Homo sapiens: one gene and its partner. The protein of the gene in region 2 purifies or fractionates together with the protein of the main gene of each other region. This does not show direct contact. Each region holds a gene or a part of one and is shown on either strand. Other genes may lie near its edges.

Region 1 (7,370 bases), on a different chromosome or scaffold from region 2:
TAGGTTCCTTCTAGACACCAGGAGCTAGAACACACACACAGACCACACCTGCCTGGGGCCTTCGGGGAGCCCCCCCCAACAGGGGAGGCACGAGACAGATTCGTGTGCCAGCCCTGGCTCCTTGCTAGCCACAGGGCCCAGCAAATGCAGACCCTCCCTCCCTGTTTCCTTGTTGGGAACATGAGGGTGGTACCAGCCAATCTCAAAGGGTTAGTGTGAGGACAGAAGAGGTCATGGACGCAGCATCTTTTGGCCATGGTTAGAATCCAAAAGATGGTGGTTTATAATTAATGCAACTTTGCAAATGTCCCTTGGGATTCTTTCCCAATTTAAAAGTTCACCTGTAATCCCAGCACTCTGGGGGTGCCGAGGCCAGTGGATCACTTAAAGCCAGGGTTTGAGGCCAGCCTGGGCCAATTTAAAAGTTCAGTACTTGACAGTTTACTTTTTACAGACTCTTTCTCCTCAAAGGTAAATGGATAAAAATAGCAAGGTGGTAACTCTTAGACATCAAAGAGCTGATTTCCAGCGGTACAGTCGCTCACGCCTGTAATCACAGCACTCTGGGAGGCTGAGGCGGGCAGATCACTTGAGGTCAGGAGTTCCAGACCAGCCTAGGGAATATAGTCAGACCTCATCTCTATTAGAAAAATATATATTTTTTTGCCGGGTGCGGTGGCTCACGCCTGTAATCCCAGCACTTTGGGAGGCCGAGGCCGGCGGAACATGAGGTCAGGAGATCGAGACCATCCTGGCTAACACGGTAAAAGCCCGTCTCTACCAAAAAATACAAAAAATTAGCCAGGCGTGGTGGCGGGCGCCTGTAGTCCCAGCTACTCAGGAGGCTGAGGCAGGAGAATGGCGTGAACCCGGGAGGCAGAGCTTGCAGTGAGCCGAGATTGCGCCACTGCACTCCAGCCTGGGCAACAGTGCAAGACTCCGTCTCAAAAAAAAAAAGAAAAAATATTTTTTTTAAAAAGTAGGATTGATCTCAATTCATTCAACTGCTAAATTTGGAGAGCGACCCTGACCCCAGATTCCTGAAAGGGCTTTACCACACTAGCCACAACGAGGAAATGGAGCCTGTAAAAGAATGAGGTTACTGAGTGTTCACAAATGCACACCAAGGCTCCAAGATGAGATCTCCCGGGGTTCCAGAAAGCTCTGGGCATCGTTCAATCTATCGCCTGTCAGTGCAGGCGTGGTCAAGGCCAAGTTCAACCTGTCATCTATCAGTTCAGGTGTGGTCACGGCCAAGGTTATCTGTGACTGGAAAACAGCCAGCCTGACCCAGATGGCACAGTGCAGGCCAGGCGGGCCGTCCCACCCAACTCACTGTGGGATGCTGGCCAAACCGCCCTCCTCATCTCAGCTTTCCCTCACCTCAGCTTTCCCTCACCTCAGCTTTCCCTCACCTCAGCTTTCCCTCACCTCAGCTCTCCTCACCTCAGCTTTCCTCACCTCAGCTTTCCCTCACCTCAGCTTTCCTCACCTCAGCTTTCTCTTCCAGCCGTGTGTGGCAGCACAAAAACCCAGCTAAGGCAAAATCTGACTCTGAGGAAATCTGACATGGGCTTGAGAGAAGTCCCCTCAAAAGAGTTGAGTGAGCTGTGGAGTGAAAAGCCACAATTTTTCTTTTTTTTTTTTGAGACGGAGTCTCACTCTATCACCCAGGCTAGAGTGCAACGGCACCATCTTGGCTCACTGCAACCTCTGCCTCCCAGGTTTAAGCGATTCTCCTGTCTCAGCCTCCCAAGTAGTTAGAATTACACGTGCACGCCACCAGGCCCAGCTAATTTTTGTATTTTTAGAAGAGACGGGGTTTCACCATGTTGGCCAGGCTGGTCTCAAACTCCTGACCTCAGGTGATCAACCAACCTCGGCCTCCCAAAGTGTTGGGGTTACAGGCGTGAGCCACCACATCCGGCCTCCCAAAGTGCTGGAATTACAGCCGTGAGCCACCGCGCCCGGCCTCCCAGAGTGCTGGGGTTACAGGCCTGAGCCACCACACCCGGCCTGGCCAGCATATTTTTTGTGGCGGGAGGTAGATGTTATCTTTCATCTTCTCTCAGGGCAGAAAATCTCTACACATTTCCTTCATGATGATGACACGGTGGTACTATAGCTTTTCACACTTCTAACTAAAAGAATTTTTTTTGAGACGGAGTCTCGCTCTGTCGCCCAGGCTGGAGTGAAGTGGCGCGATCTCGGCTCACTGCAAGCTCCGCCTCCCGGGTTCACGCCATTCTCCTGCCTCAGCCTCCCGAGTAGCTGGGACTACAGGCACCCGCCACCACGCCTGGCTAATATTTTTGTATTTCTAGTAGAGATGGGGTTTCACTGTGTTAGCCAGGATGGTCTCGATCTCCTGACCTTGCGATCCGCCGGCCTCGGCCTCCCAAAGTGCTGGGATTACAGGCGTGAGCCACCGCGCCCAGCCCTTCAAAAAGTATTTTTAAAAGCCTGCCCATCACACCAGCCCAACGATGTTTCAGCAAACATAGGACTTCATTTTGCCAGATTCTTCCTGTTCTTTGGTATCCCTGAGCACACAGCCGGCTAGCCCCAGATGTAGAAGGTAAGAATTAGGGCGACCCATTGAGCACAGAAACGCTTGTGCTGGCTCCTGCTCAAACCTCTGCTTCCCCACATGGAGAATGGACGCAAAGAGCTGCTGTGACCAGGGCCTGGCACTCAGGGAGCGCTTTCTGTCTGAGTCCTTCTGATTTGCAGTGATGCTGTTTGGGGCAGGGGGTGCAACTGTCACTTTTTCTGGTGCCCTCTGACCCGACATTCCAAGTCCCGAAAGGCCGAACAGGCATCGCACAGTCCCCCCTACCGAGCTGGCGGGAAAGGGCGCCTGACGCTGAGGAGTGCCAGGGGCGGGGGAAAGGGTCCTGGGTCGGTGGTCGGGGGTCCAGGCCCTGGGCAAGGGGTCCTGGGTCGGGAGTCTAGGTCCCGGGTCCATGGTTGGGGGTCAGAGGTCGAGGCCCCGGGGAAGGCATACCGGGTTGAGATTTGGGGATGGAGGCCCCGGGGAAGGGGTCCCGAATCGGGGGTCGGGGATCGAGGCCTGGGGGGAGGGGTCCCGGGTCGAGGGTCGAGGCCCGGGGTAAAGGATCTCGGGTTGGGGGTCGGGGGCCTGGGAAGGGTCCCGGTCGGTGGTCGGGGGTCGAGGCCCGGGAGAAGGGGTCCCGGGTCGGTGGTAGAGGCCCTGGGGAAGGGGTTCCGGGTCGGGGATCGAGGGTCGAGGCCCGGGAAAAGGGGTCCCGGGTTGGTGGTCTAGGCCCTGGGGAAGGGGTTCCGGGTCGGGTATCGGGGGACGAGGCTCGGGAAAAGGGGTCCCAGGTCGGTGGTCGAGGCCCTGGGGATGGGGTCCGGGTCGGGGATCGGGGGACGACGACCGGGAAAAGGGGTCCCAGGTCGGTGGTCGAGGCCCTGGGGATGGGGTCCCGGGGGATCGACGGTCGAGGCCCGAGCTCTCCTGAGTCCTGCCCGCGGCCCCAGGTGGGCGGAGCCCACGCCAGTGGGAGAAGCGGCCCCGCCCCGCGCGCGAGTCCCCGGAGGACGGCCGCGACCTCTTACCGTCCATGGCCACAATGACAGGAGCAGCACTCGGAGAGGGAGAAGGGACGCCAACTCCGGGCGGTGTCAGGTCCCGGCGGCGATCGAACCGACCAAGCTGCACCCGGCGGGGACTTCCGGGGTCGCCGCCCCACTTCCGGTCGCACGGGATGCTCTCGCGAGAGGATGGTGGCCGGTCCCGCCAGAGGGGCGGGGCGCGGCTGCGCGGCGCGCGGTCGCCATGGTGACGCACGCCGCTGGCGCGAGGACCTTTTGTGAGTCGCTCCCGGCTCCGCGGCCGCGGAGGTGTGGGGACCCGGGCTTGCGTCGGAGGGGGCGGTGGGCTCACCCATGGGCCTTTCCAAAAGCAAAGAGAAACCCAGGAAAGGTAAAGGAGGCGCAGGCGCTGGGCTCCCCGCGTCTCCGCCCCTGGGCGCGGGCCCAGGGCGGGGCTGGGCTGGGCGGGGCGGTGTGAGCGCAGGCGCCAGGCTCGGCCCGGTGCGAACCGTTCCTGCCGCCGAGTCCGCCACGGACGGCGCGTTTCCCGCCTGAGGCGGTTACGGAAACGCGGAGACTCGAGACTTGAAGCCAGCTTATTCTGGACCCACGCAGGCGACTGAAGACGATGGGACCCACTGCCCTGCATTCGGTAAGTCCCGGGTCTAACGGATGATCCATATATTTCAGGTGAGGAGCAAAAGAAGGGATCCACCTATTCAGTTCCAAAATCTAAGGAGAAGTTGATGGAGAAGCATTCCCAGGAAGCCAGGCAGGCAGACAGGGAGTCGGAGAAGCCTGTGGACAGCCTCCACCCGGGGGCCGGGACAGCCAAGCACCCGCCGCCGGCAGCTTCGCTGGAAGGTAGGAGACGGCGGGAGGGAGCGAAGCGAGGTCAGTGGCTTGGAGGATCTGGGGCTGGGGTGAGGAGCCTACTGTAAGACCCTACCGGATGGACACTAGTAGCAGGCACGCGCCGTAAAGATGAAACTGGTTTGTTTTGGGAACTTTATGTAGGAGGTAAATATCCAGAAATCTTAGTTGAAAACATAAGTTTAATGAAAATGTAGGTCAGTTCCCGAGTGATAAGTGCGTACCAGGTGGTCGAGGGGCTGGGGCAGTGTGCGTGTGTCTCACCTGAGGTTCTCCTCGAGGGCTGGGTATCTTGGTGCCACTGAGAATCCCTGAGCCTCCGCACACTGGAACAGAGCATTGGGAGGCCGTCCCAGGCTGGACTGTAGCTCTCCGAGGGCTGTGGGGATAAGTACATTGCGGAGGGTGACCGAGGAGTAGAACCTGGGTGCGACAAAGGTGTCTTTTATAACAGCCTAGTGTGGCCAGACCTTTGGGTGTGTGTGGGGAAGATGAGGCCCCAAAAGTAGGAAGAAGCTAGAATACAAAGTTTTCCATCAGTTTTACCACGTGGAGCTGGAAGCGTTAAATATTTTAAACAACGGAGGTGCTGCCTGGGGCGGTAGTTCACACCTGTCCTCCCAGTTATTTGGCCGAGGCAGGAGGATCTTTTGAGCCCAGGAGTTCAAGACCAGCTTGGGCAACATAGTGAGACCCTGTCTCTACAAAAAATAAATATTTAAAAATAAAAAACAAGGGCGGCATGATGAGGTCTGTGCCTACCAACAGGGGAAGCCAGTTCGCAGGGGAGGTGGCCCGGTCAGAGACCCATTGCTGTGGCCCAGTGGGAGCCAGCAAGGCCTTGCAGTAGGAATTGCAGAAGGGTCAGGCAGGGAGAACCCGCAGAGCCTGCCGTCCGAGGAGATTGGGGGCCTGTGCCAGGAGGAGGTGTTTTAAGTTTCATCACAAGAATGAACCACTCGGCTGGGCGCAGTGGCTCACGCCTGTAATCCCAGCACTTTGGGAGGCCGAGGCGTGTGGATCACTTAAGGTCAGGAGTTCAAGACCAGCCTGGCCAACGTGGTGAAACCCTGTCTCTACTAAAAATACAAAAATTAGCTGGGCGTGGTGGCATGTGCCTGTAATCCCAGCTACTCAGGAGGCTGAGGCAGGAGAATTGCTCGAACCTTGAACCGGGACCCGGGAGGCAGAAGTAGTGGTGAGCGAGATCGCACCACTGCACTCCAGCCTGGGCTACAGAGTGAGACTCTGTCTCAGAAAAAAAAAAAAATAATAAGGAGAGAACCACTCGGGTCAGACAAGAAAGAATGTCAGGGGGATGACTGGCCTGCTAGGCAGAGGAGCTGGGCCTGGACTGCTTCACACTGACACGCTTGTAGGATCAAGGGCTGAAAGTAGGAGGCTCTGGGCCTTGGACTTGGAAGAAAGACTTGGATTTGAATTCCCAACTTTGGAACCTCCCACTGGAGGGTGGAACCCCTCACAGGAGGGCGCAACCCCCCACCGGAGGATGGAACCCTGCAGGAATAGCATCACCCTTGGGTGGCAGTTTGGAAAATGCTACCTGTCTGTCACGGTGCTTTTAGCTGAAAGTTACAGAAAAGCTCACTAAACGCAGCTTTAACACAGGGATTTAATGTCTCACGAATGAAGGGTCAGAGGTGGAGCTTCCAGGTTGGCTTGTTAGCACAACAGTGACATCAAAGACTTTGCGTGTCTCTTCTTGACCACTCTCAGTGTCCACAGCCCCCGATGAGTGTACAGCCCCCCACACGCAGGCAGGACTGCATCTACTGCAAAGGCATTGCTCCTTGCTTCATATTAGCAAGGAAACCTTTCCCAGGAAGGCTTCGCCTGCCCAGCCTCTGCAGGACTCATTCAATGGTGCAAATTCACCAGGGGCTGGAGGGAGCTGTGAAGCATGGGAGTGGGCAGGACCTCTGCCAGTAACGGAAGTGGGGGAAGGAGGACCGCCTGTTGGAAGGGCCCCAGCAGTGTCTGTCACACCAGAGGGTGGGGGAGGAAGGTGGACATGAAGGGAAAACAGCAGAGCAAGAGTGAGAACAGAGTTTCAGCAGATAAAATGAAGTGTGCACGCTCTCCATGCAGTGACGGGCTGAGCGACAGTGAGGAGCAGGCTGCTGACTCCCTTGCCACACCGTGAAGGAGTCCCAAAGGTGGGACACTGAGTGAGACAAGCCAGAGGAAAGACCACTCATGTTGCAGTTCCCTTTCCATGGAATGTCCAGAAAAGGCACATTTACAGAGAGAAGCAGATGAGTGGTTGCTGGGCAGAAATGGGAGCCGGCCACAGCTGAGCACAAGAGGACTTTGGAGGGTGATGGAAATGGTTTTCGACCTGAATCTGAACATGGGAAGCACTGCAGTTTAGTAGTCCTGGTCCCTAAGCCCTTCCAGCCCAGGAGCCAGACCTGTGAGCAAACAAGCCTTTAGTGATTCCAGGCTCTGGCTGGAACCTTGAGTCTTCTCAGCTTGGGGCATGCACCTCAGGGGGAGCCAGCATCAGTGTCCAGCCCCAAGAGCTTCCCTGTACGTCTCAGTGAGTCTTCACATGCCTCCAACTGCCTGGACAACCACACGTGATACCTGTCCTGCCAAACGTGTCCTGAACCCATAAAATCCAGAGAAAAGAAAATCGTTTTAAACTGCTGAGGTTTGGGGTAAGTTACTATGAAGCAGTAGTGAGAAGAACAGAAGGGCCATGATGGGGAGAAAGTTTGGCCATAAGTTAATCACTGTGGCAGCTGTTAGGATATTGATGTGGCTTGGCTGTGTCCTCACCCAAATCTCATTTTGAATTCCCACATGTGGGAGGAACTGGGTGGGAGGTGATTGAATTATGGGGGCAGGTCTTTCCTGTGCTGTTTTCGTGATAGTGAATGAGTGTCACGAGATCCGATGGTTTTAAAAACGGG
Region 2 (12,385 bases):
ACTGTATAATTACACTTTATGAGGTACCTAAAGTAGTCAAATTCAGAGACAGGAAGTGGAATAGTGGTTGCCAGGGGCTGGTGGCAGTGGGGAATAAGGAGTTATTGTTTAATGTTGTGGGAAGTCAAGGACCCCGAATGGAGGGACCGGCTGGAGCCGCGGCAGAGGAACATAAATTGTGAAGATTTCATCTTAATATGGACATTTATCAGTTCCCAAATAATACTTTTATAATTTCTTATGCCTGTCTTTAATATCTTAATCCTGTTATGTTCGTAAGCTGAGGATGTACATAACCTCAGGACCACTGTGATAATTGTGTTAACTGTACAAATTGATTGTAAAACATGTGTTTGAACAATACGAAATCAGTGCACCTTGAAAAAGAACAGAATAACAGCGATTTTTATGGAACAAGGGAAGACAACCATAAGGTCTGACAGCCTGCGGAGTCGGGCCAAAAGAGCCATATTTTTCTTCTTGCAGAGAGCCTACAAACGGACGTGCAAGTAGGAGAGATATCACTAAATTATTTTCCTAGTAAGGAATATTAATATTAATACCCTGGGAAAGGAATGCATTCCTGGCGGGAGGTCTATAAACGGCCGCTCTGGGAATGTCTGTCTTGTGCCGTTGAGATAAGGACTGAGATACGCCCTGGTCTCCTGCAGAACCCTCAGGCTTACTAGGGTTGGGAAAACTCCACCCTGGTAAATTTGTGGTCAGACTGGTTCTCTGCTCTCCAACCCCGTTTTCTGTTGTTTAAGATGTTTATCAAGAAAATACATGCACCGCTGAACACAACCCTTATCAGTGGTTCTGCTTTTGCCCTTTGCCTTGTGATCTTTGTTGGACCTTTGTCAGTGGTTCTGCTTTTGCCCTTTGTCCTATTCCCTCAGAAGCATGTGATCTTTGTTAGAACCTTATTAGTGGTTCTGCTTTTGCCTTTTGAAGCATACGATCTTTGTACCCACTCCCTGTTCTTACCCCCGCTCCCCTTTTGAAACCCTTAATAAAAACTTGCTGGTCTGAGACTCAGGTGGGCATCACGGTCCTACCAATATGTGATGTCACCCCCAGCGGCCCAGGTGTAAAATTCCTCTCTTTGTACTGTCTCTATTTGTCAGCCGGCCGACTCTTATAGAAAATAGAAGGAACCTACGTTGAAATATTGGGGGCGAGTTCCCCCAATAGTTTAATGGGTAAAGACTTTCATTGTACAATGATGTAAAAATTCTGGGCCAGACGCAGTGGCTCACGCCTATAATCCCAGCACTTTGGGAGGCTGAGGCAGGCCGATCACTTGGGGTCAGGAGTTTGAGACCAGCTTGGCCAACACAGTGAAATCCCATCTCTACTAAAAATAGAAAAATTAGCTGGGTGTGGTGGTGCGTGCCTGTAGTCCCAGCTACTCGGGAGGCTGAGGTAGGAGACTCACTTGAACCCGGGAGGTGGAGGTTGCAGTGAGCTGAGATCGCGCCACTGCACTCCAGCCTGGGGGATAGAGCGAGACTCCAAAAGTTCTGGAAATGGATAATGGTGATAGTTGTACAACAATGTAATGTACTTAATATCATTGATTTGTACACTTAAAAATGGTTAAAATGGGCTTGTTCCAGCAGCTCATGCCTGTAATTCTAGCGCTTTGGGAGGCCAAGGCAGGAGGGTCACTTGAGACCAGAGTTCGAGACCAGTCTGGGCAACATAGCAAGACCCTGTCTCTAAAAATAAAAAAATAAATAAATAAATGGTTAAAATGAGGCCATGCATGCCTGTAATCTCACCGCTTTGGGAAGATGAGGCGGTAGGGTCACTTGTTTGGGAAGAGGAGGTGGGAGGATCCTTTGAACCCAGGAGTTCAAGGCTGCAATGAACTATCATGGTGCCATTGCACTCCAACCTGGGTGACAGAGTAAGACCTAGTCTCTAAAAAAATAAGAGTTAAGGCCAGACACGGTGACTCACGACTGTAGTCTCAGCACTTTGGGAGGCTGAGGCGGGCAGATTACAAGGTCAGGAGTTTGAGACCAGCCTGGCCAACATGGTGAAACCCCGTCGTACTAAATATACAAAAATCAGCTGGCCGTGGTGGCATGTGACTGTAATCCCAGCTACTCAAGAGGCTGAGGCAGGTGAATCGCTGGAACCCGGGAGCCAGAGGTTGCAGTGAGCCGAGATCAGACCACTGCACTCCAGCCTGGGTGACAGAGCAAGACTCTGTCTTGAAAAAAAAAAAAATTAAAAAAAGAAACATGGCCCAGTGTGGTGGCTCTTGCCTATAATCCCAACACTCAGGGAGGCCAAGGTGGGAGGATTGCTTAAGCCCAGGAGTTCGAGACCAGGCAACATAGGGAGACCCCGTCTGTACAAATAATTTTAAAAATTAGCCAGGTGTGGTGGTGCATGCCTGTGGTCCCAGGTGCTCAGGAGGCTGAGGTGGGAGGACTGGCTAAGCCTGGGAGGTTGAGGCTGCAGTGAGCTATGATCACACCACTGCACTCCAGCCTGGGTAACACAGTGAGACACCCCGTCTTAAAAAACAAACAAACAAATAAACAAATACTATGCATAAAACCTCAAGGCTCAAGAAACAACAGTTTGAAATAGTTAGATGTGTGTTTTTTAATTTTCATGTCTTATCTTTTCTGTTTTTTGTTTTTTTTTTTTTTTTTTTAGAGATGAGATCTTGCTCTGTTGCCCAAGCTGGTATCGAACTCCTCCTGGGCTCAAGCAATCTCCTGCCTAGGACTCCCTCCTAACAGCTGGAACTACAAGCATGAACCACTGCACCCAGCTACTGGTGTATTGTTTCAGTAGTCTTTTTAAAAAATGTTAATATCTTGGTAAAAAATATATTTATACTGTTCTCTAACCTGCTTTTTTCATCAGTGTGATGGAAAAATGCTCATCATATATTCTTCTGCTATATAACTTTAGATGTCTACACTGATTTCATTTATGACATCACAATTAAACTGGTTAAACCAAATTCATATTGCTCACTTGTTTCTAATTTTTTCTCTATTAAAATGATATGATAAGCATCCTTGTAGCCAAATATTTACACACATTCATTAAGGTTTACTTAAAAGAAATTCCTAGACGTGGAGCTGAGTCAAAGAGAAGGGATCTTTTAAGTATTTTTGCACTGATTGCCATGAAAAGGTCATACCAGTTTATACATTCATCAATATATGAGTTTCTTTTCTAAATCTTCTTCAACATCATGTGAGAGACAGTTAAAGCATAGTTGTTCAGAGCCCAGGCTTGAGAATCAGATTTCAAAGGTATGAACCCTCTCCCTTTTTCTTTTCCTTTTTTTTTTTTTTTTCTGAGGAGTCTTGCTCAGTCGCCCAGGCTGGAGTGCAGTGGCCCAATCTCGGCTCACTGCAAGTGTGTCCAGAATTGGTGGATTCTTGGTCTCACTGACTTCAAGAATGAAGCCGTGGACCCTCACGGGAGCATTACAGCTCTTAAAGGTGGCATGTCCAGAGTTCGTTCCTTCTGATGTTCGGATGTGTTCGGAGTTTCTTCCTTCTGGTGGGTTCATGGTCTCGCTGGCTTAGGACTGAAGCTGCGGACCTTCGTGGTGAGTGTTACAGCTCTTAAGGCGGCGTGTCTGGAGTTGTTCGTTTTTCCCGGTGAGTTCATGGTCTCGCTGGCTTCAGGAGTGAAGCTACAGACCTTGGTGGTGAGTGTTAGAGCTCATAAAGGCAGTGTGGACGCAAAGAGTGAGCAGCAGTAAGATTTATTGCAAAGAACGAAAGAACAAAGTTTCCACAGTGTGGAAGGGGGACCCCAGCGGGTTGCCACTGCTGGCTAGGGCAGCCTGCTTTTATTCTCTTATCTGGCCCCACTCACATCCTGCTGATTGGTAGAGCCCAGGGGTCTGTTTTGACAGGGCACTGATTGGTGCGTTTACAATTCCTCAGCTAGACACAAAAGTTCTCCACGTCCCCACCAGAATAGTTAGATACAGAGTGTTGACACAAAGGTTCTCCAAGTCCCCACCAGAGTAGCTAGATACAGAGTGTTGATTGGTGCATTCACAAACCCTGAGCTAGACACAGGGTGCTGATTGGTGTGTTTACAAACCTTGAGCTAGATACAGAGTGCCGATTGGTGTATTTACAATCCCCTAGCTAGACATAAAGGTTCTCCAAGTTCCCACTAGACTCAGGAGCCCAGCTGGCTTCACCCAGTGGATCGTGCACTGGGGCTGCAGGTGGAGCTGCCTGCCAGTCCCGCACCGTGAGCCCACACTCCTCAGCCCTTGGGTGGTCAATGGGACTGGGCTCCGTGGAGCAGGGGGCGGCGCTCGTCAGGGAAGCTCAGGCTGCACAGGAGCCCACGGAGGCGGGGGGAGGCTCAGGCATGGAGGGCTGCAGGTCCTAAGCCCTTTCCCGTGGGAAGGCAGCTAAGGCCCAGCGAGAAATTGAGCACAGCGCCAGTGGGCCGGCACTGCTGGGGGACCCAGCACACCCTCCGCAGCCGCTGGCCCAGGTGCTAAGCCCCTCATTGCCCGGGGCTGGCAGGGCCAGCTGGCGGCTCCGAGTGTGGGGCCCACCAAGCCCATGCCCACCTGGAACTCCAGCTGGCCCGCAAGTGCGGAACGCAGCCTCAGTTCCCACTTGCGCCTCTCCCTCCACACCTCCCTGCAAGCTGAGGGAGACGGCTCCGGCCTTGGCCAGCCCAGAAAGGGGCTCCCACAGTGCAGCGGTGGGCTGAAGGGCTTCTCAAGTGCCGCCAAAGTGGGAGCCCAGGCAGAGGAAGTGCTGTGAGGGCTGCCAGCACGCTGTCACCTCTCACAAGCTCCACCTCTGGGGTTCACGCCATTCTCCTGCCTCAGCCTCTGGAGCAGCTGGGACTACAGGTGCCTGCCACCATGCCCAGTTAATTTCTTGTATTTTTTTTTAGTAGAGATGGGGTTTCACTGTGTTAGCCAGGATGGTGTCGATCTCCTGACCTCATGATCCACCCGCCTCAGCCTCCCAAAGTTCTGGGATTACAGGTGTGAGCCACCGCGCCCATCCCCTTTTTCTTTTTAGAGACAGGGTCTTGCTATGTTGTCCAGGTTGGTGCGAAACTCCTGGCCTTAAGCAACCCTGCCACCTCAGCCTCCAAGTAAACTGGGATTACAGGCGTGAGCCATCTTGCCCAACTTCCACTTTCTAGCTGTGTGATCTTCAGAAAATCAGTTAAATTCTCTGGGCCTTAATTTACTGATAGGGTTCTTGTAAGTATTAACCATTAGCTACTATTGAGAGGTGAAGACCGCTGGGCTTCTGGGTTGGGTGGGGACTTGGAGAACTTTTTTGTCTAGCTAAAGGATTGTAAATGCACCAATCAGCACTCTGTGTCTAGCTAAAGGTTTGTAAACGCACCAATCAGCACTGGGTAAAAACGAACCAATCAGCACTTTGTAAAACGAACCAATCAGCACTCTGTAAAATGGAAAATCAGCGCTCTGTAAAATGGACCAATCAGCAGGACATGAGCAGGGCCAAATAAGGGAATAAAAGCTGGTCACCCCAGCTAGTAGTGGTAACCTGCGTGAGTTCCGCTCCAGGCTGATGGAAGCTTTGTTCTTTTGTACTTCACAATAAACCTTGCTACTGCTCCTTCTTTGGGTCCATACTGCATTTCAGAGCTGTAACACCGTGAAGGTATACAGCTTCACTCCTGAAGCCAAGACCATGAACCCACTGAGAGGAACAAGAAAAACAACTCTGGACCTGCTGCCTTTATGAGCTGTAACACTCACCTTGAAGGTCTGTGGCTTTACTCTTGAAGTCGGTGAGAAGCGAGACCATGAACCCACCAGAAGGAACACATTCCGGACGCATCTGAACATCAGAGGAAACAAACTCCAGACACACTACTTTTCAGAACTGTATTAAGAACTGTAACAGTCACTGCGAGGGTCTGCGGCTTCATTCTTGATGTCAGCGAGACCAAGAATCCACCAGAAGGAACCAATTCCAGACACAGAATTATTTGCCTTCTTACTTCCTGAGAGTTCTAGGCACAGAACATACTTGAGGTGTTATACAAAGGTAATTAGAACTGACAGGGAATTGTATGATTAATGACGTGGGACATGAGAGATTTGGAACGAGATAAAAAGGCTTACCTTGAGGACAGCCTTATTAGGAGCAGAGGCAAACACAGGTTTTGTGGGTTTGAAGCCTACACATTTATAGCTTTCTCTAATTACACAGGTAGGAAATTATAAAATCAGGTACAAGGGCTTGGCAGGGGCCTAAAGCTTAAGTGATGAAAAAAAAAAACACCACACCTCTGGTGAAACCAATAGCTTACGAAAAAGTAGAAAAAAGCGCGATGCATGGGGAGCTCCGGTAGTCCTTTGAGGTATTTGAGAGGCTGAGTCAGGAAGATGGCTTGAGCACCAGGAGTTGGAGGTTTGTAAGTGCAGTGATGGTAAACTGCCGCTGTACTCCAGTCTGGCAATGTAGTGAGACCCTGTCTCTCAAAAAAAAAAAGTAACCCTTGCCTGACTGGGACAATAATTGAGAAACCAGTAAAACAAAATAATAACTATTAGCCGGGCGCGGTGGCTCATGCCTGTAAATCCTAGCATTTTGGGAGGCTGAGGCGGGCGGATTACAAAGTCAGGAGTTTGAGAAATTACTACCTATTACCCCATTTGGCTATTTTTACACTTGTAAGGAATGAAGCTCAGAGGTCACACAGCTAGTAAGAAGCCAGCACCCTTCGATGTGGGATTGATGTGGAGGATAGGCATATACAGAGAACACAAAAGCAAAACACCATGGTGCAGATTTTGAAAGAAAAGCCCTAAGATTAGTAATGAGTGTGAATTATTCAACAAAGTGATCAAAACTAACTCCAGCTCTGCATTCCTCTTCGCCATCAGGAGTTTGGAGCCTGGAGACTGCTAGCTGCCTGGTTCTTTAAGAACCAGCCCTGGTCCAGCCCATTCCGCAGGCCAGCAAGCTTCTGAAAAGCAAACCTAGGAAGTAGCTTTCCAACATAAAGTGGAGGTTTCAACACAGGAGACTTTAAGCAAGTTCCAGTGTGTCTATATTTGGTCTGGCTGATCGGCTGGACTCTGGCCTTCCCCGCTCACGTTAGCAGACAGCTCTGCCCTAGTGGGCGCTTAGCCTGCGACGGCAGCCCGAGAGGATGTCTAACAAGCTTCTTTCTCCCCACCCCCATTCAGTTGTTCTCAGGTCTGAATTCAAAATGGCCTCATCTCCTGCTGTCCTTCGAGCGTCCCGGCTGTACCAATGGAGCCTGAAGAGTTCGGCGCAGTTCCTGGGGTCTCCACAGCTGAGGCAGGTTGGTCAGATCATTAGGGTTCCTGCTCGGATGGCGGCGACGCTGATCCTGGAGCCTGCGGGCCGCTGCTGCTGGGACGAACCGGTGCGAATCGCCGTGCGCGGCCTAGCCCCGGAGCAGCCGGTCACGCTGCGCGCGTCCCTGCGCGACGAGAAGGGCGCGCTTTTCCAGGCCCACGCGCGCTACCGCGCCGACACTCTTGGCGAGCTGGACCTGGAGCGCGCGCCCGCGCTGGGCGGCAGCTTCGCGGGGCTTGAGCCCATGGGGCTGCTCTGGGCCTTGGAGCCCGAGAAACCTTTGGTGCGGCTGGTGAAGCGCGACGTGCGAACGCCCTTGGCCGTGGAGCTGGAGGTGCTGGATGGCCACGACCCCGACCCCGGGCGGCTGCTGTGCCAGACGCGGCACGAGCGCTACTTCCTCCCGCCCGGGGTGCGGCGCGAGCCGGTGCGCGTGGGCCGGGTGCGAGGCACGCTCTTCCTGCCGCCAGGTGACTCACCTCCGCTAATTGTTCCGTGTTCGTTCGCCTTTCACTTTGTGTGTCTCCCCCGCCCCACGCTTTTCGCTTATGTGTATGCCCCCCCGCCGCGCCCCCGGGCTATATTGCCCAGGCAGGTTTCGAATTCCTGGTCTCCAGCTATCTTCCCGCCTCTGCCTCCCTAAGAGCTGGGATTACAGGGTGAGCCACCGCGCCCGGCACTTTGAGGGGAGTTACACTTTTTTTTTTTTTCCGTCCCTGCCCTTTTCACACGAAGAAGGGATGTAGCTTCCAACCTTCCGGAGGTTAGTGTAAAGAAACAGGAATGGAATGGAAAGCTGATTGGGGAAGTGTCCCTGCCGCTCCAAAACTGAGAGGTCCCTCAAACCTAGTGCTCAGTTAAAAGACATTGTAAGGGCCAGGCGCAGTGGCTCACGCTTGTAATCCCAGCACTTTGGGAAGTCTCGGCGGGCAGATCACGAGATCAAAAGATTGAGGCCATCCTGACTAACACGGTGAAACCCCGTCTCTACTAAAAATACAAAACAGTAGCTGGGCGTAGTAGCGGGCGCCTGTAGTCCCAGCTACTCGGGAGGCTGAGGCAGGAGAATGGTGTGAACCCGGGAGGCAGAGTTTGTAGTGAGCTGAGATCGCGCCACTGCACTCCAGCCTGGGCGACAGAGCGAGACTCCGTCTCAAAAAAAAGACATTGTAAGGAAAGGAAAAAGACACTTATATTAAAAACAAAACAGGCCGGGCGCGGTGGCTAACGCCTGTAATCCTAGCGCTTTGGGAGGCCGAGGCCGGCGGATCACCTGAGGTCAGGAGTTCGAGACCAGCCTGGCCAACATGGTGAAACCCCATCTCTACTAAAAATAGAAAAATTAGCCAGGCGTGGTGGTGCATGCCTGTAGTCCCAACTACTTAGGAGGTTGAGGCAGGAGAATCGCTGGAACCCGGGAGGCAGAGGTTGCAGTGAGCTGAGATCATGCCATTGCACTCCAGCCTGGGGGACAAGAGTGACTCTATCTTAAAAAAAAAAAAAAAAAATTCAGGTAGTTTCAATTTTTTAATGTTCTTATTTATGTATTGACTAGGAAGCCACTTTTTTTTTTTTTTAAATAAGAATTCCGACTGGTTTTCTCACTGTATTTCCATGGCAGCTAGGAGGTGCCAGGTGGCTGGGCCTGTGACAGTGCAGAGGTTTTGGTGCCTGCCCGCCCACCATTGCTCCAGCTGCAGCTGCTGCCCCCTGCAGGGCCTGTTCGTTCCTGCTGCCTAGCTCCCCGCTGGCTGGCTATGATCTCCCTGTTACCATTCCAGGAGAGCAGCCGCGTCCCTATGCATGGCAGGACCAGGTACTATTGTGGCCTCTCCTCTTGGCCTCGAATGGTATCTTTGTCATCAGTGAGCAAGTCCCCAAAGACCACGGTCTTGTCCATTGTCAGGATAATTCACTCCACAAGCTGGGGCTCCAGGTGCTGCCCTACCCAGCGGTGCTTCTCACCCACACAGTGGTCATACTTTGGCAGGGGCTGGTGCAGTGTGAAGACCTCGGTGTTTTGCATGTGCTTCATCTCTTGCAAGGTCCTCCGGGGTTGGGCTTCAAGACTAGGGAAAAGCCTGGGCTTCACACCCGTGGGCCACTTTATCCACCAGGTCCGGCAGCAGGGTGAGGTACTGCTTCCAGACCAGGAAGCTGCGGTGCTGCTGCAGTGTCACATGCAGCTCCCTGAGAAGGGGCGGCTGAAGCCCCGCAGGAGGCCGTCTGGAAGCTGCCAGCACGCGGTCCCTGTCCATCAGCACACGCGTGGGCTGTGCTCATCGCTGCCGGGGCACTGGGGTTTCTCGGGATCCTAGGGGTATGGGGCCCAGAAATGTTCTTTAAAAGTTTCTCATTTTTGCAACTTTTCTTTGAATTCGCACAGTATGTTAAGATTTATGTAAATTAGCATTTACAATAGGAAAACCTCTTCCTGTCAAATGGAAATTTGAGGTTACTGGATACTTTTATATTACATAAAGAGCAATCAGCCAGTGTAAAAATGAAATGATGCTTATCCTTATTAATAATCAAAGAAATGCAAAATAAAACAACAGAGTACATTTCACACCCTCAGAAGTGGCCCACTTTTAGAAGCTAGCATTATCAATTGCTGACCAGTATGTGGAGGAAATGAAACTCACTGCTAGAAGGAGCAACATATTCATCTGCTCTGGGCAACAATTTGTCTTAACTTACAAAGTTAAATATGTTATTCTACTTGTACATGTGCACCAGGAGGCATATTCCTTATAAGAGGCCAGATGAGCAGTCTGGATTAATTTAAAAAAAGAGCAAAGTCAACTGGAAACAGTCCAAATGTCCATCAACAATAGAACAGATTAATAAATTGAGGTATATTTCCAGCAGTCAAAGTGATTGAACTACAGCTACAAGAATCAACATCTATCAAGATATACAAAAGAAAAGAAAAAAAAAGAATCAACATGGATGAATCTCCAAACCACTGTTGAGTGAAACAGTCAAACCCTAGGAGAACACATTCAGTATCATTCCATTTAGATACAATTCAAAAACTAGGCAAAATAAAATATTAAGGTACATAATCTAAGTGGTAATACTATGAAGAAAACCAAGAGTGATACACAGAAAGTCCAGGATACTGGAAAGAGAGGAAAGGGCACAGGGGTCTGTGGGACGTTGATGGTTTGCGGGTATCAGCACTGAACTATGTCTTAAAAGTGTTGCCTGTAAGGTGTTTGCATTTTTTTTTTTTTTTTTTTTTTTTTTGAGACAGTGTCTCGCTCTTTCGCCCAGGCTGGAGTAGTGGCACAATCTTGGCTCACTGCAACCTCCACCTCCCGGGTTCAAGCGATTCTCCTCCCTCAGCCTCCCGAGTAGCTGGGATTACAGGTGGCCGCCACCACACCCAGCTAATTTTTGTATTTTTAGTACAGATGGGGTTTCACCATGTTGGCCAGGCTGGTCTCGAACTCCTGACCTCAGGTGATCCACCCGTCTCAGCCTCCCAAAGTGCTGGGGTTACAGGCGTGAGCCACCGGACCCAGCCTGCATTATTACTATTTAATTTTGTGTGAAACACAAAACCTTTAATGTAAATGATAAAAATATCAGTAAGTGGAGTCATTCAGAATGAGTAGCCTTTTGAGTCTGTCTCCGTTGAGTAAGTGCATTCTGTTGAGTGCACTGGAGAGGAATTTGTGCTCTTCTATGTAGCAGTCTTTCTTTTTGTTTCTTGGTGGTGCACCATTAAATGGATTCATTCACCAGTTAAAGGACATTTGGGTTGTTTCCAGTCTTTGGCTACAACGAGTAAAGTCACTATAAACACTTGCCAGAGGTTTCTGGACGAACAGGTTTTCATTTCTCGTGGGTAGATACCTAGGAGTGGGATTGCTGGGTCACATGTGTGGTAAGTATATGTTTAACTTAAACCATCCAACTGTTTCAGGAATAGCTTAGTTTTGCATTTTGTTTTGTTTCTTCCCAAGAACCTGGGCCCTTTCCTGGGATTGTGGACATGTTCGGAACTGGAGGTGGCCTGCTGGAGTATCGGGCTAGTCTGCTGGCTGGGAAGGGTTTTGCTGTGATGGCTCTGGCTTATTATAACTATGAAGACCTCCCCAAGACCATGGAGACGCTCCATCTGGAGTACTTTGAAGAAGCCATGAACTACTTGCTCAGTCATCCCGAGGTTAGTTCTTCTTTCAGATTTATGGGCTATGATGTATCAGGTCTCTTCTTAAATGGTCTGGGTTTTCACAGAAGTTAGCTCATTCATGACAGCCATTCCCTACCCCAACACACACTACCTTTTTTAGTCACTTCTTATAGACAGTTTCTTTTTTTGAGATGGAGTCTCACTCTGTTGCCAGGCTGGAGTCCAGTGGTGCGATCTTGGCTCACTGCAACCTCCACCTCCCAAGTTCAAGTGATTCTTGTGCCCCACCCTCCCGAGTAGTTGGGATTACAGGCACCTGCCACCATGCTTGGCTAATTTTTGTATTTTTAGTGGAGGCGGGGTTTCACAATATTGGTCAGGCTGGTCTTGAACTCCTGACCTCAAATGATCCACCTGCTTTGACCTACCCAAGTGCTGGATTACAGGCATGAGCCACTATGCCCAGCCTAATATTTGTATTTTTTTTTTTTTAAGTAGAGATGGGGTTTCGCCATGTTGGCCAGGCTGGTCTCAAACTCCTGACCTCAAGTGATCTGCCCACCTTGGCCTCCCAGAGTGCTGGAATTACAGGCATGAGCCACCACACCTGGCCTCTTATAGACAGTTTCTATTCAATTCTATATTACTATATTTCCTGCTAGTAAAGAGATTCGTAGTTGTTATTATGCAATTTTAAATTCCAGTATTTTTTTTTTTTTTTTTTTGAGATGGAGTCTTGCTGTGTCACCCAGGCTGGAGTGCAATGGCATGATCTCGGCTCACTGCAAACTCCACCTCCCAGGTTCAATTGATTCTTCTGCCTCAGCCTCCCACGTAGCTGTGACTACAGGCACGTGCCACTACTGCCCGGCTAATTCTTGTATTTTTAGTAGAGATGTTT

What was found.
Region 1: the proteins of ACOT2 (region 2) and SPATA33 purify together in Homo sapiens (affinity purification with mass spectrometry; 2 studies listed by BioGRID and IntAct, with this or other methods). This does not show direct contact.

Annotation. Positions count from the first base shown.
Region 1 is NC_000016.10:89,653,997-89,661,366, forward strand, and holds the start of SPATA33 (spermatogenesis-associated protein 33), read left to right. Parts: upstream 1-3,839; 5' UTR 3,840-3,915; coding exon 3,916-3,952; intron 3,953-4,071; exon of another isoform or gene 4,072-4,251; coding exon 4,252-4,425; coding exon of another isoform or gene 4,426-4,455; intron 4,456-6,543; coding exon of another isoform or gene 6,544-6,554; exon of another isoform or gene 6,555-7,370. Other genes in the region: CHMP1A (charged multivesicular body protein 1a), read right to left, coding at 3,586-3,592. UniProt on the Homo sapiens protein: Plays an important role in sperm motility and male fertility. Required for sperm midpiece flexibility and for the localization of sperm calcineurin to the mitochondria. Promotes mitophagy as well as acts as an autophagy mediator in male germline cells.
Region 2 is NC_000014.9:73,562,074-73,574,458, forward strand, and holds the start of ACOT2 (acyl-coenzyme A thioesterase 2, mitochondrial), read left to right. Parts: upstream 1-7,139; 5' UTR 7,140-7,167; coding exon 7,168-7,810; intron 7,811-11,314; coding exon 11,315-11,517; intron 11,518-12,212; coding exon of another isoform or gene 12,213-12,296; exon of another isoform or gene 12,297-12,334; intron 12,335-12,385. UniProt on the Homo sapiens protein: Catalyzes the hydrolysis of acyl-CoAs into free fatty acids and coenzyme A (CoASH), regulating their respective intracellular levels. Displays higher activity toward long chain acyl CoAs (C14-C20).